Homo sapiens: one gene and its partners. Changing the gene in region 1 together with any one later gene gives a genetic interaction. Each region holds a gene or a part of one and is shown in the gene's direction. Other genes may lie near its edges.

Evidence for each region.
Region 2: changes in FASN (region 1) and SLC35A2 together harm fitness more than expected from each alone (negative genetic interaction), as found in Homo sapiens cells (one large-scale study listed by BioGRID).
Region 3: changes in FASN (region 1) and RPS18 together harm fitness less than expected from each alone (positive genetic interaction), as found in Homo sapiens cells (one large-scale study listed by BioGRID).
Region 4: changes in FASN (region 1) and DPH6 together harm fitness less than expected from each alone (positive genetic interaction), as found in Homo sapiens cells (one large-scale study listed by BioGRID).

Annotation. Positions count from the first base shown.
Region 1 is NC_000017.11:82,091,564-82,095,407, reverse strand, and holds part of FASN (fatty acid synthase), read left to right. Parts: coding exon 1-88; intron 89-1,636; coding exon 1,637-1,810; intron 1,811-1,988; coding exon 1,989-2,189; intron 2,190-2,388; coding exon 2,389-2,511; intron 2,512-2,595; coding exon 2,596-2,711; intron 2,712-2,818; coding exon 2,819-2,953; intron 2,954-3,723; coding exon 3,724-3,844. UniProt on the Homo sapiens protein: Fatty acid synthetase is a multifunctional enzyme that catalyzes the de novo biosynthesis of long-chain saturated fatty acids starting from acetyl-CoA and malonyl-CoA in the presence of NADPH.
Region 2 is NC_000023.11:48,902,683-48,905,664, reverse strand, and holds the end of SLC35A2 (UDP-galactose translocator), read left to right. Parts: intron 1-182; coding exon 183-919; coding exon of another isoform or gene 920-1,075; exon of another isoform or gene 1,076-2,199; coding exon 2,200-2,227; coding exon of another isoform or gene 2,228-2,301; 3' UTR 2,302-2,482; downstream 2,483-2,982. Other genes in the region: PQBP1 (polyglutamine-binding protein 1), read right to left, coding at 2,581-2,737, 2,870-2,933. UniProt on the Homo sapiens protein: Transports uridine diphosphate galactose (UDP-galactose) from the cytosol into the Golgi apparatus, functioning as an antiporter that exchanges UDP-galactose for UMP.
Region 3 is NC_000006.12:33,270,615-33,274,874, forward strand, and holds the start of RPS18 (small ribosomal subunit protein uS13), read left to right. Parts: upstream 1-1,460; 5' UTR 1,461-1,505; coding exon 1,506-1,508; intron 1,509-2,013; coding exon 2,014-2,112; intron 2,113-4,260. Other genes in the region: VPS52 (vacuolar protein sorting-associated protein 52 homolog), read right to left, coding at 972-1,061. UniProt on the Homo sapiens protein: Component of the small ribosomal subunit. The ribosome is a large ribonucleoprotein complex responsible for the synthesis of proteins in the cell.
Region 4 is NC_000015.10:35,378,666-35,382,165, reverse strand, and holds part of DPH6 (diphthine--ammonia ligase), read left to right. Parts: intron 1-249; coding exon 250-344; intron 345-3,500. UniProt on the Homo sapiens protein: Amidase that may catalyze the last step of diphthamide biosynthesis using ammonium and ATP. Diphthamide biosynthesis consists in the conversion of an L-histidine residue in the translation elongation factor (EEF2) to diphthamide.

The DNA of each region.
Region 1 (3,844 bases):
TTCGGAGTCCACCCCAAGCAGGCACACACGATGGACCCTCAGCTGCGGCTGCTGCTGGAAGTCACCTATGAAGCCATCGTGGACGGAGGTGGGTCGGGCATTCGCGACTGCTGCGCCGAGGGCTCCTGCTGCTCACGTGGAATAGGCAGTGTTTTCTCTTCTTGGTTCTGGTAGAACCAGGTGCTGGCACCACCTACCCTCCCCGGCTGTGCCCCTGGCCTGGCCAACGGGCTCAGGGAGGTGTGGGCCACGGGGTAGGCCGCAGTTTCCCAACTGCACCCCAGAGGTGTCGCGGGTGTGCCCTGACCTGAGCGTACCAGTCTCCTCGCTTCTGATGTCTGGCTGGTGCTGGGGCCGGGGCCGGGGCTGGAGTGACGAGAGGCAAAGCAGGAGGTTCTTGAGGGGCCCTCCAGGCCCCCACCCCCACCAGCCAAGCAGCGGACAGCACCGGCCCTGCTGTCTCTCCCCTCCCACCCTCCCCACTACCCTTGCCCACGTCCCCCCACCCCAGGCATTTCAACCCTCTCCCGCCAGCCTGGCCCTCGCTCTGACTGGCATTTGACCTCGGACAAGCGCCACGCCGTTTTTTTATTTTTATTTTTATTTATTTATTTATTTTTAAGACGGAGTCTCACTCTGTCACCAGGTTGGAGTGCAGTGGCGCGATCTCAGCTCACTGCAAGCTCTGCCTCCTGGGTTCACACCATTCTCCTGCCTCAGTCTCCTGAGTGGCCGGGACTACAGGCGCCCACCACCACGCCCGGCTAATTTTTGTATTTTTAGTAGAGATGGGGTTTCACCATGTTTGCCAGGATGGTCTCGATCTCTTGACCTCGTGATCCATCCATCTCAGCTTCCCAAAGTGCTGGGATTACAGGCATGAGCCACCACGCCCAGCCATGCCATTTCTTAAGATCCAGGTGCTCCCTCCCCGGGCGGAGAAGGACCTCCTGAGGGGGAGGCTGAGCCCTGGGCTGCCCTTGGGTGTGAGCGGTTCACACACCCACCCACCCTAGGGCAGAGCCAGCCCACCAGGGGCGAGGAGGGGCCCTGCTGGCCGAGAGGTGGAAGCCCTTCTCCTGCGCCCTTCCTGCTGCCAGACCCCACCCCAAGACTAAGGTTATGCTCCCCGGGGGTGACCGGTGTCCCTCTCTCCTTCCCGAGCCTGGACACTTGGCCTTTGTCTCCTCGGTTCCTTATCACGGCCTGTTCTGGTGCAGGCTGCCCTTGGCGCTGGAGAGGCCACTGGCCGACGGGCTCATCAGAGCTGCCGGTGACACCAGGGGCCAAAGGCGTCGCCTGGGGACAATGCTGCCCTCTGTCCTTCCTGGAGCCACTCTGGCCGTGCCTGGTGCCCTCCCCTGGGCCCGCCTGCCCCCTCCGCCTCGTTCCCTCTGTGACCTGGTTCCTGTTCCAGGCCTCACCTGGGCTGGCTGCTGGCCACAGGCTCTGTTCTGGCCCCTCTGCAGGACACCTCACCCTCCTTAGGCCCCTTCCAGGGTCCCACTGGGATGGACCCCCCCTCACCCCAAGCCAGTGAGGCCAAGATGGGACCTTCGCCCCAGAGCCGGGTGGGTGGGTGGGCTGGCTGCGCTGTGGGGCCCGGCCGTGGCACCTTGACCACTGTTTGTGGCAGGCATCAACCCAGATTCACTCCGAGGAACACACACTGGCGTCTGGGTGGGCGTGAGCGGCTCTGAGACCTCGGAGGCCCTGAGCCGAGACCCCGAGACACTCGTGGGCTACAGCATGGTGGGCTGCCAGCGAGCGATGATGGCCAACCGGCTCTCCTTCTTCTTCGACTTCAGAGGTGGGTCCTGCCCAGCCTCCTGCGGAGGTGGGTGGCCTTCAGGTCCCCACATGCTGAGCAGAAACCACGTGGCGTGGGCTCACTCCGTGCAGTGTGTGTCCAGCCTGGTGGCAGGAGGTGTGCTCAGGGGTCTCGTGTGCTCACAGCCCCACCTGAGCCGCAGCACCCTTCCTTGCAGGGCCCAGCATCGCACTGGACACAGCCTGCTCCTCCAGCCTGATGGCCCTGCAGAACGCCTACCAGGCCATCCACAGCGGGCAGTGCCCTGCCGCCATCGTGGGGGGCATCAATGTCCTGCTGAAGCCCAACACCTCCGTGCAGTTCTTGAGGCTGGGGATGCTCAGCCCCGAGGGCACCTGCAAGGCCTTCGACACAGCGGGTGAGTGTGCGGCTGCGCGGCCAGGGCAGGCGGGACAGTGGCACAGGACGGCCCCCCGCACAGTCCCCACGCTGAGCAGGATCCTGCCAGCTCCGGGGATCCCCCACCCAAGCACCCACCCCACACCCCAGAGCTCCTCCTGGTGGGGTGGGGGCCGGCGTGGGGCTGAGCCCCGGGCCTGAGGTGCTGCTCTACCCAGGGAATGGGTACTGCCGCTCGGAGGGTGTGGTGGCCGTCCTGCTGACCAAGAAGTCCCTGGCCCGGCGGGTGTACGCCACCATCCTGAACGCCGGCACCAATACAGATGGCTTCAAGGAGCAAGGTGGGCTCTGCCGGGGTTCCGGGGTGCTGGGGGGCAGGTGGGAGCCGGGGCTGGGGCTGCAGCACTGAGCCGAGCCCTCCGCAGGCGTGACCTTCCCCTCAGGGGATATCCAGGAGCAGCTCATCCGCTCGTTGTACCAGTCGGCCGGAGTGGCCCCTGAGTCATTTGAATACATCGAAGCCCACGGCACAGGCACCAAGGTGATGCCCCCCCCCCCCGCCCCACTCACCACCCCATGAGCCTAACCTACGCCCATGCCTGGAGAGGTGACCTGGCCAGAGCCCCTCACCCCCCATGTTTCCCACAGGTGGGCGACCCCCAGGAGCTGAATGGCATCACCCGAGCCCTGTGCGCCACCCGCCAGGAGCCGCTGCTCATCGGCTCCACCAAGTCCAACATGGGGCACCCGGAGCCAGCCTCGGGGCTGGCAGCCCTGGCCAAGGTAGGTGGGGCTGGGCTTGGGGGTCCCTCAGGCTCCTGCTCCCTGGGACTGGGTTGCGCCATGGCTGGGCACTGCTGCTTTCTCTTTGCCAAGTGGAGGCGGGGGCTTCCCCACCAGGAGCCTCTGTCCCCCGGGCTATGCTGCAGGTCTGAGCAGAGGCACTGAGGCTGACAGCAGGGAGAGCTCGTAGCCAGGCTCGCTGGGCCTTCCCTGGAGGCCTGATGCCCTGCAGAGCGTCTGCCGGACACGGAGCCGAGCTGGAGGAGCCGCTTGGGTGGGAAGAGCGAGGCAGGAGCAGGCCTGGGGGGGTCCACGGCACCATCAGGGTCTCCCGTGTCGCCCACCCGTCCCTACAGCTTCCTGACCCACTAGCAGAGGCCTGGGGACCTTTAGAGAGACCAGGCACAGGAGCCCCAACACCCATGATCACTCACGCCCTCTGCCCCCCAACTTCTGCAGCCTCTGAGATGCAACATCTGGGCCAAGGGGGCCTTAGTGTTCAGGCCACAGCCAGGCTTTGGTGGGTCCACATCAGGCTGGGAGGCAGCAAGGCCGGAAGGGGAGGTCTTGGACCAAGCTGAGGGCAGGGCCATGGCGGCTCAGTCCTCGGACCCCTGTGCCATGGCAGAATTAGGTTGGGGACAGGAAGTGCATCGGAGAGGGCCCTGGAACCCTGGCCCCACATGAGAGTCTCGGGGAGGTGCCTGCCCCCAGCTCAGGCAGTGGTAGAGGGAGTGGGGCGGCTGCCCATCCACCACGTACCCCCGCAGGTGCTGCTGTCCCTGGAGCACGGGCTCTGGGCCCCCAACCTGCACTTCCATAGCCCCAACCCTGAGATCCCAGCGCTGTTGGATGGGCGGCTGCAGGTGGTGGACCAGCCCCTGCCCGTCC
Region 2 (2,982 bases), on another chromosome or scaffold:
TCAGAACTGTTTTGCTGCAGCTCAGCCAATGGCCAGTGGCTGGCTCCTTTTGCTGTTTTTGCTGTCATACCCCCCACCCTGTCCCTCCATTGTGCCTGGGGGCCCACAGTGGGTGCTGCCCCCCATGTGCACCTGTTGGGGGCCAGGGTCAGCCCTCAGTGCCTTCCACGTGCCACTCGCAGGTGACATACCAGCTGAAGATCCTGACCACAGCGCTGTTCTCCGTGCTCATGCTGAATCGCAGCCTTTCCCGGCTGCAGTGGGCCTCCCTGCTGCTCCTCTTCACTGGCGTCGCCATTGTCCAGGCACAGCAAGCCGGTGGGGGAGGCCCACGGCCACTGGATCAGAACCCTGGGGCAGGCCTGGCAGCCGTCGTGGCCTCCTGTCTCTCCTCCGGCTTCGCAGGTGTCTACTTTGAGAAGATCCTCAAAGGCAGCTCAGGCTCCGTGTGGCTGCGCAACCTGCAACTGGGCCTCTTCGGCACAGCACTGGGCCTGGTGGGGCTCTGGTGGGCTGAGGGTACCGCCGTGGCCACCCGTGGTTTCTTTTTTGGGTACACACCTGCTGTCTGGGGCGTGGTGCTCAACCAGGCCTTCGGCGGGCTACTGGTGGCTGTGGTTGTCAAGTACGCTGACAATATCCTCAAGGGCTTTGCCACCTCCCTGTCCATTGTGCTGTCCACTGTTGCCTCCATTCGCCTCTTTGGCTTCCACGTGGACCCATTATTTGCCCTTGGCGCTGGACTCGTCATTGGTGCTGTCTACCTCTACAGCCTTCCCCGAGGTGCAGCCAAAGCCATAGCCTCTGCCTCTGCCTCCGCCTCCGGGCCCTGCGTTCACCAGCAGCCTCCCGGGCAGCCACCACCACCGCAGCTGTCTTCCCACCGTGGAGACCTCATCACGGAGCCCTTTCTGCCAAAGTCAGTGCTGGTGAAGTGAGGGCTGGCAGCAATGGGGGGACACAAGGGAGGGGGACTGGGGTGGAGGGTGTTGGGCATCTGCAGGACCCAAGTCGCCACCCTCCGGGGCCTGGCTCCTCTGGGTTTGGGAGATGGTCTTTTCTCCCAGGTCACTGAGACTTCTGGAGGGGTGTGGGACTAGAGCTGGGTGTCACGTGAACCCTTCCTGGTAGGGTGACCCCCTTCCCCTGGAGGGGGTTTTAGAGCTGCCGCCTCTGCTCCCTCTAACCTCTTTGGAGGCAGGGTTGGGGGTATTGTCATTCAAGGCCTTTTTTTTGTCTGCTCCCTCCCCGACCCTGTGCCCTCTTCTGGAGGTTTCTCGTCTGGGAGAGTCCCTCCCAGCAGTCCCTCCACCTCCATAAGGACACACTGGACAAAACTCCCGCAGCTCTTCAGGAATGACCGATGCCTACCTGTGGGGTTCAGTTGCCCATAGTTTGAGGCCTTCTCTCCTCCCTTACCACCGCTCTGGATCATGTTACTAGTTCCGTCTTTTGTGTGGCCTTGGGCCAGCTTCCTTGATACCTTGAAGATGGGCTTCTTGTGAGTCCCCAGGGAGAAAGGGACAAGAGCTAAGATTTTTGCATCAGCCCTTCTGGCAGAAGGTGTGGTAGGGGCCATTTGTTTTTTTTAGTGGACTTGGGATTTGTGGTGTAATCATATCATTAATGATCCAGGGTGTGGGAAAAATGGAGGTCCTTGAAGTGGCTGAATCTCATTGTATTTAAGACACTGTCAGTTGCCAGATGTAGGCTTATTTTTGGAGATGTCTAGGAGAGGAAAAAGCTACCAATCATACTCTTGATATCCGTCTGGCTGTGTGAGGCACCCCTACCTCATGGGGGTGTCTTGGGATTGATGAACTGTGGAACCTGCCTCCTGCGCTCCCCAAAGCTTATTAACCCCTTAACTGTATCGGGGCGGGGTGTGTGTGTGCATGGAAGATGCCTGGGCTGTCTTTGCTATATGTAAATAGAGCCATTGGATCTTTATTTTTGATTAATTTGTTCTGATTTTTTGGTTTGTTTTTTAAGGAACTGTAATGAACAAATGTCAGGATATCCAATGCCAAATAAAGATGTTGTATTTATTTAGTCCACGTGTAGCTTTCTGACCAGGTGGGCACCATTACTAACCCCAGGACTACCAGCCTCACCACCGCCGCCCTCACTTGCTCAGGAAACCCGCCTGCCAGCCTAGCCCAGCTTTGTGTTTTTCTTTCCTCCCCATTCCCACCACAGGTTGCTCACCAAGGTGAAGGGTTCCTAGCCGCTGGGATTGAAGACATTGGCCTGGCCTCGTTCTCTCTTCTTGCCCTTGGCCCAGCTGGGACCAAACTCTGATCAGTATTAGGGGTAGAGTGAGGTAGACACTGGACTCCCTGTCCCCACCACCCCTGCCCCACCCAGGGCCAACATGACTAAGCTCTCTCATGACCCACCTCAGCTCAGCCCCCCAGCCCCTGCCAGCTCCACACTATCTCTTAGCTGAGTTTTTGCAAATAAAATGTGTTGTGTATCTTGCCGACTTGGGTTGGGCAGCCTCAAAGGAAGCACTCAGGTATGGTGGGCAGGATCACCAGAAAGCTTTTATTTTAACCCAGGGCCAGGGAGGCCGAAGCTTCAATCCTGCTGCTTGGTTCGGGAGGCCTCTGCATTGGCCCGGAGCACAGCCCCTGGGGATGGATACGGCCGCTGCTGGAAGAGGGGCCCAGCTGCTGTGGTGTCAGCGCCAGTCTTGGCCTCATTCCGCTTGGGGAGTCCTGTTGACCACGTGCCCCTGCCGGTGAAAGAGTCAGGGGATGGGGATGGGTGATGTGGCGGACACAGCCCACCTGGTCCCAATGAGGAATGGAGGAAGGAGGCCGGAGGATGGTGTCCACGTACTGAGTCAAGAGGGGTTGTCACTTACCGGGGGGCGTCTGAGTATGAGCTAGGGTCCATGGGGTCTAACTCTTCATCCTTTCGGCTTACTGCTGTGGAAGTGGCAGGGCAAAGTCTTCAATAGAGGCACCAGGATCCCCT
Region 3 (4,260 bases), on another chromosome or scaffold:
GGAAACCCGTCTAAAGAAAACAAAAAAAGGTAAAAGACAAGACAGTGCAGTGGAGGCCGGACGCAGTGGCTCACGCCTGTAATCCCAGCACTTTGGGAGGCCGAGGTGGGAAGATCACGAGGTCAGGAGATCGAGACCATCCTGGCTAACACAGTGAAACCCCGTCTCTACTAAAAAATACAAAAAATTAGCCGGGCGCGGTGGCGGGCGCCTGTAGTCCCAGCTACTTGGGAGGTTGAGGCAGGAGAATGGCGTGAACCCGGAAGGTGGAGCTTGCAGTGAGCCAAGATCGCGCCACTGCACTCCAGCCTGGGCGACAGAGCAAGACTCCGTCTCAAAAAAAAAAAAAAAAAAAAAAAAGTGCAGTGGAGATGACCGAATGAGGAAAGCTAGGAATTGCAGAGGATAGAGCAGAACTTGCACTTAAATTTAAGACCCTCAGACTCCTGCCATCTTGGGTGTTCTATCACACCTCTGGGGAACCCCAGGCTTTCTAGAAATGTCAAAACACATAGTGTTTACCTGCATGCCAGGTGCAATCTTACACATATTCATCTAATCCTAACGACGATGTATACAATAGGTTCTATCTTCCTCACCTTAAAGGTGTGAGAAATGATGGCACAGAGAAGCTGGTTAACTTGCCCAAGGGCACACAGCGTGTAAGTGGCAGAGATAGAACTCAGGCAGTCTGGCTTCAGAGGCCATGTTCTTAACCTTTACACTATACTACTTCGTGACTCTACCCCAAAATGTGGAGTGAAGTTGAAATTTTGTGCCCCAGAACATGAGTTTCAGCCACTAGGGTCCCGCTCAGGGTCGGGTCTGATCACAGGGAAGGGTACGGGGAGCCAAACAGGTAATATCACGGGTAGCAGCCAAGTTCCCACCCTTGTGCCTAAACCCAGCTCAGGTCTTTCTGAAGCTAGGAGCACCGGAACTACGGAGGAGAAACAGCTCCGCGCTCTCACCAGCGGGCCCTCTTCCTCCTCCATATCTGAGGTCCCAGCCCGCAACACCAGTTCCCGGGCCGCAGCCGCCATGGTCGCAGCGGCGGCCATTCCCCGCAGCCTCACTTCCGGCAACTGTCAGTCCCGGCGAGTCCGTTCCCCGGAGTGGAGCTACAAGTCCCAAAGGGTCTTCCTCAGCGCGAAATCGTTCCCAGATATTTGAGTTAAGTTGTTTGACTCCAGCTGTCCCCTTTCAGCTCTAACCACTTCACCCAACTGCAAATGGAAATATGGAAGTCTGAAACACAAACTAGCCCCGGAACCTTCGCTGTTCTCTTACCTATGAACCTTACGAACTGTAAAGAAAGGCGCACCGGAAGTTGTGGTACCCAAGCCATACTCTCATAAATCCAGCCAGGTCGCGCTGAAACAGTTTCCGGAAGCACTTCTCCTAGATCGCACCGCCTCTTCCTCCTGGAAGCTATATAATGATATCGCGTCACTTCCGCTCTCTCTTCCACAGGAGGCCTACACGCCGCCGCTTGTGCTGCAGCCATGGTAAGACTGGAATCCGTGCCGTGATCCAGCGGCATCGCAGCTCGGGCAAGGAAAGCCGGCTGTCAGGGTTCTGGAAACGTCCTGCCCTGAGGGCCTGCGACTTTCTGTATGGAGCCTTGGATCGCGTCCCTGGAAAGGGACACCAAAGATTTCCAATTCCGGAGAGCGGGCCCGAGGAAGGGTCACTGCTCGGGCGCACGAAAGCTGTCTAAGGCTTGGGCGTATATGGGGAACTCTGGCTTTTGCCACGCACTTTTGGGAATGGGCAGGAGACCTGCTTCCTCTCTCCAGAGGTTGCATTTTCCCAAGCTTGAACGCTTCATGTGCCTACTCTGCAGGACTGAGGAGTTTGCTCTGTGGTGTGAAAACCTAAGGAATGGGGGGCGGGTGTCTTGCCACTTGTGTGACAGGCTTAACCTTTTTGTATGAAGTTCGTTTGCCTTATCGGCCTTACTGTTTGATAGTTTACTGTGTCTGATTTCTTCCCCCGTACTTTTTCAACTAGTCTCTAGTGATCCCTGAAAAGTTCCAGCATATTTTGCGAGTACTCAACACCAACATCGATGGGCGGCGGAAAATAGCCTTTGCCATCACTGCCATTAAGGTAAGTGAAGTAGGGTAAGGAATAGGGAATGTAAATGAGAATTGGGTTGTGAAGACATAAGCAAAAATGAAGCAAGGCTGGGGAGACTTGAGTCTCATCCAGATCACCTTGACTGCTGGATTAAGAAAAGAAAGTGGTTTAGGGAGAGACTGACCCCTTTAGCATTTACCACAGAAAATAAGTGATTAAAGCCAAGATAGTGGTCTAAGGTCAAGCCAAAACATTTCACCTGGGGAAGTGGGGAGGAGGTATGGTTGCTCACCCGAATTCGCTAAGATTTTCCTGAACCACGAGCTTGTGAGATTTCTTCTAGATTCGGTTTCTTTACCCATCCCACCATCATAACAGCAACCCTTCCTGCGAAATTTATATTCCCTGAGAATTGGAGGATTATTGGGCATCTTGAGGGATAAGTAGAAATACCAACAGATAAAAAGTGTGAAGAAGCCTGTAGATGGAGGGTGGAAGAAGTCTGAGTGGGACATTTACTCAGATGAGCCATAATTGACACTCCTTTCCTGTCGAAGTGTGAAGGAGTACATCCATCTTTCTTTGGCTTTTAAGAATCGAATCAATGAATGCAAGAATATTATTTCACTTGAGTATTTCTCTCCACAAACCTAATGAATTCTTGGCTTTCTAGATACATAACGTTCTTTTTTTTTCCCTTAAGTCAGAATGTGTAGTTAGTTGTGGAAATAGCCTACCAGTATGTGTCCATGCGTGCAGGGCTAGGCCTGTCTTCTTGGCTTCTGTTGCATGGTAGGTACTTAGGCGACGTTAGGGAATGGATAGTAGTAGGGATACTGTTGGCTCTGTTGAGGAATTTGTAGAGGGAAATTCCTTCTGTTGGGTGCTCTGTGAAACTAATAAGGCAGTGTGAAATACTGTACTTATTTCAGAGACCGGCTGTGAGGCTTAAGTAGAGGTGCAGCATTCATAAGTGTAATAGAGAATAACCTTCATGGATGTATCTAACTAAAAATTAGAAATCTTATTTCATCTATATCTCTTCCCACACCCATTTTGAAGTAAATCTTTTCACTTGTAAACATATAATTAAATTTGAGGCTTAGTGCAGTGGCTCACTCGGAGGCTGAAGTGGGCGGATCCCCTGAGGTCAGGAGTTCGAGACCAGCCTGGTCAACATGGTGAAACCTCGTCATTTAATTAATAAATTTGAAAGACCCTGCTCTCTTCTGAATCAACCTAATAATTTGACCCTTGGTCATGTTTATTTATTTATCCCGAGACAGAGTCTCACCCCGTCACCCAGGCCGGAGTGCAATGGTGCAATCTTATCTCACTGCAACCTCAGCCTCCCAAGTAGCTGAGATTACAGGCACACGCCCAGCTAATTTTTGTATTTTTAGAAGAGATGGGGTTTCACCATGTTGGTCAAACTGGTCTTAAACTTCTGACCTCAGGTGATCCACCCACCTCAGCCTCCCAAAGTGCTGGGATTATAGGCGTGAGCCACTGCACCCAGCCACATTTATTTTTTGAGACTGTCGCCCAGGCTGGAGTGGCGGAATCACTCTTCACTGCAGCCTCGACCTCCAGGGCTCAAGTCAATCCTCCTACCTCAACTTTCCAAGTAGTTGGGGCTACAGGTGTGCACCACCACATCTGGCTAATCTGGATCTTGCTGTGTTGTCCAGGCTGGTCTTGAACTCCTGGGCTCAGTGATCCTCCAGCCTCAGCCTCCTAAAGTGCTGGGATTACAGGCATATAGGCATGAGCCACGGTGAAGCCAACCCTTGATCTCTTTCTTGCAGATAGGAACTGCCATTTGTTTTAGTTTCCTGGAGCCTACTGTAACAAGTTCATATAAACTAAGCAGAAAATTACTCTTGGCGCTGGAGGCACTTAAGAATCCTACCTTGCCTCTTCCTGTCTTCTGGTGGTTGTCAGTAATCCTTAGTGTTCCTTGGCTTGTAGCTGCATTACTCCAATCTGTTGCTGTCATCTCATGGTCCTCTTCGTGTCTCTCTCATGATTTGTCATTGGATCTAGAGCCCACCCTAATCAAATATAACGTCATTTTACCTAATTATTTCCGTAACGACCTTATTTCCAAATAGGGCCACATTCTGATGTTCTAGTTGGACAAAATGAGGGGCAGGGCTCAGTATTCAGTTCCTCCTT
Region 4 (3,500 bases), on another chromosome or scaffold:
ACGCGCCTGGCCTCTTAATGTTATTTTTTTTTAAGAGTTTTGGCATTCTTGGGGATCCTATGCCTTATGATAACATTTTTGAAATGGCTTTAAACAGGTTTTAAGCAGAAATATAATTAATTTTCCTTACCTTGCAAACTATTTTGGAATTAAAGTTTTTTGTATGGATTTTTTAGTACCAGATAAGAGAGCATTTATGCTGTCTAATTTTAAACTTCTTTCTTGTTTTTTGTGTTTTCCTATTTTCAGCTTTCTAAGAAGTATGGAGTACATGTTTGTGGAGAAGGTGGAGAGTATGAAACTTTCACTTTGGATTGCCCTCTATTTAAGAAGAAAATAATTGTGTAAGATATCATTTCAGCATTTTCTTTTTTTCCCATAAATTTAAGTGATGGAAGCAACTGAACATTAAGCTTGAGGCAACTTTTGTTGGGAAAAATAGAACATGTCTTCTAAGTTCACAAACACTCAATTTGTTTAATACCAGTGAAGTTATCTGAATATCTAAATCAATACCTGACAAGACGAGGCCTTCATAGAAGGCTATAAACTTTTTAGACATTGCACTTTCGTTTACTTGCTGATTATGGCCTGCAGTAAAACTGGTACCTACACACCGACACTTTTATCCTTTCATGAAGTGTGAATTGCCTGTATTATTTATCTTTCATTACAGCTACATTTGATAAACTGCCACATCAGTAGCCTGTGGGTTCCATTAACTCCTTCCTCTTTTTTCTTTTTCTTGGCTTTAACAACTCAGAATGGTAATGTAAACATTTCTCTTCAGTTATTTGGGGTTATTTTTACACATAAACTTTGTTTTTAAATGAATTTAGTTGATGGTGAGTAGTGTGATTTCTTTGCCATAAATTGTTAAAATTAGTGTAGTGAAAAACAGAAACTTTCTTCAGTTTGTTACCTTATCATCCATGCTCTAATTTATGTTGCTCTCTTTATATGCTAAGAGAACACTATCTGCTTTTCTTAAGCCTGTATGCATCATGGAAAAGATTGTCAGAGTTATGCTTGATTGAATGGAAGGCTTCAGTATTTCTAACACTAAGACTTAACCTCTTTGTGCATATTAATAATGAGGGAAGGAGTGATCTAAGAAAATTAAGACAACAACTCTAGGTGGATTTTCTTAAAAAATGCAATTTGTAAAATATGACAAGACATTTTCATTACCATATGCAATATTCATGCACTCTTGCTTTCATATTCTTCTAATTTCTTTTCCATTAATAATCAACATAATCATTATTTATTTGACAAATACTCATCAAGTACCTATTACATCCAAAGTGTTCTCCTGGGCACCACTGATGTTCAAATAGTTTCTGCCTTCAAAGGGGTAGAAAAAGACATCTGTGTGTAATTACGATAAAAGGTGGTAAAAAATAAGTCATAAGTTTATTTATGGGAGAGGACATATTTATTTTGCCCATGATGATCCCAAAACAATTAATGAGTCAACTATTGATAAGTTATTACTTCTATGAAATAATACGTTATATTATTCAAGAAAAACATTTGCAAGCTAGTGTGAAATTATAGTAGAAAATTTAGGATATATTTACTTGTTAATATAGGACTAACCAAATCAGAAAAAAAAAGCACAGCAATAAGTGGAAAACATGCCAAAGAATAATACTTTCTCTATTTGCCAGAAAAATTGAGGTCCCAGAGCACCTGGAAGTCTTTATGGACAACATGGAATTACAAGACATGTACTGCTTTACTCTACATAACCAGAAGATATGTTTATCACAGTATTTTAGACCTAGAATATGAATCCTTTTCAACCTCCTCATTTTGTAGGCAAGGAAACCTAAGCCTGACAGAGACAGTGGCATGAAGGGAATTACTCATGCTGTTAAAGAGAAGATGTCAGGGAAGGTGGTTAGAACCCTCTAGTGCTAAAATGAGCTGTTCAGTGCAAAGTGTGAGTAGAACTCTGCAAGTTGCTGCCCTGCTCTGTAGGAGTTCTTCCTGTAACCAAAGAGATGGACAGGCAAATCAACAATAACTGATAGGTGCTACCACGCAGGTATGTACCTTGTAAACACAAAGGAAGCCCTGTCTTTTCATTGTTACTCATTTATGAGTTAATCACCAATCTAATTCTGATGCTTAAGCATATTCTTTGCTTTTTTTTTTCTTCATAGGCTATGCCTCACTTCAGCTTCATACTTTTCTTTTGTGATACCTTTTCTCTAGATTGCCTTCTCATTTCTGACCACTTTGCTAAATCCTTTCATTTTTATATGCTTTGGCTGCCATTGCCTCCAGTGCTTGTTCTCATACTTATCAGAGCATACATTAGGCTATTTGCTAAATACTGTTGGACTAATTTGTAATTTGTTGTTGTTTATTTTTGTTTATATATGGTATTTCACATACTTTTATGTATTTATTTGTTAGGTTATAACTTGAAGTTATAGGTTGGGAAATATCCTCATTTGGCAGAAAAAGGATATCACTTAATATAAACAAAATCTCCCCTCCTCTTTAAAATTGAAATGTCCTAAGCATACCTGCCTGATATACAATAAATGCGAAGATGTGAGTGAACATGTTTTGTGCATTCTAAAACTGTATGTAAATGAAAGTTATATTATTTAGATATAATCTTCCATATAATACAATTAAAAGATGAGCTTAGTTCCTGTAACTGTTTTTTAACAATTGAGTATTAATAATTCTGGATCCAATCATTTAGAATTCATTTTGGGGACAGATTTTATAACTTCTGTTATATTTGATGTAATAATTGTCTGCCACTATTAGCACGCAACTAATCATTTATTAGGAATCCTACTTCAAACGTCTGATTCAAATGACATTTTATTTTTTACAAAAAAAGAAGACTACCTCTAAGGCGAGAAAAAATAAATTTTACATGCAGACTTATTTGATTATAATTAGATATCTTTTTTGAGGTGAGGGAGGGGCCATGTGGGCCAATGTAATCATGAGGATCCTTAGAAGAAAGAGGCAGAAGGGTCCGAGTCAGAGAACGGGATGTAACAACGGAAGTAGACTCAAGTGACATGGAGCCATGAGCCAAGAAATGTGGGAAGCTTCTACAAGCTAGAAAAAGCAAGGAACAGATTCTCCTCTAAAGTCCCAAGAGAGAATGCAGTTGTACCAATACCTCGGGGGTTTGTTTGTTTGTTTGTTTGTAAATTATACTTTTAAGTTCTAGGGTACATGTGAAGAATGTGTAGGTTTGTTACGTAGGTATACACGTGCCATGGTGGTTTGCTGCAACCATCAACCCATAACCTACATTAGGTATTTCTCCTAATGTTATGCTTCCCCCAGCCCCCCACCCCTGACAGGCCCTGGTGCATGATGTTCCCCTCCCTGTGTCCATGTGTTCTCATTGTTCAACTCCCACTTGTGAGTGAGAACATGCAGTGTTTGGTTTTCTGTTTTTGTGATAGTTTGCTGAGAATGATGGTTTTCAGCTTCATCCTTGTCCCTGAAAGGAC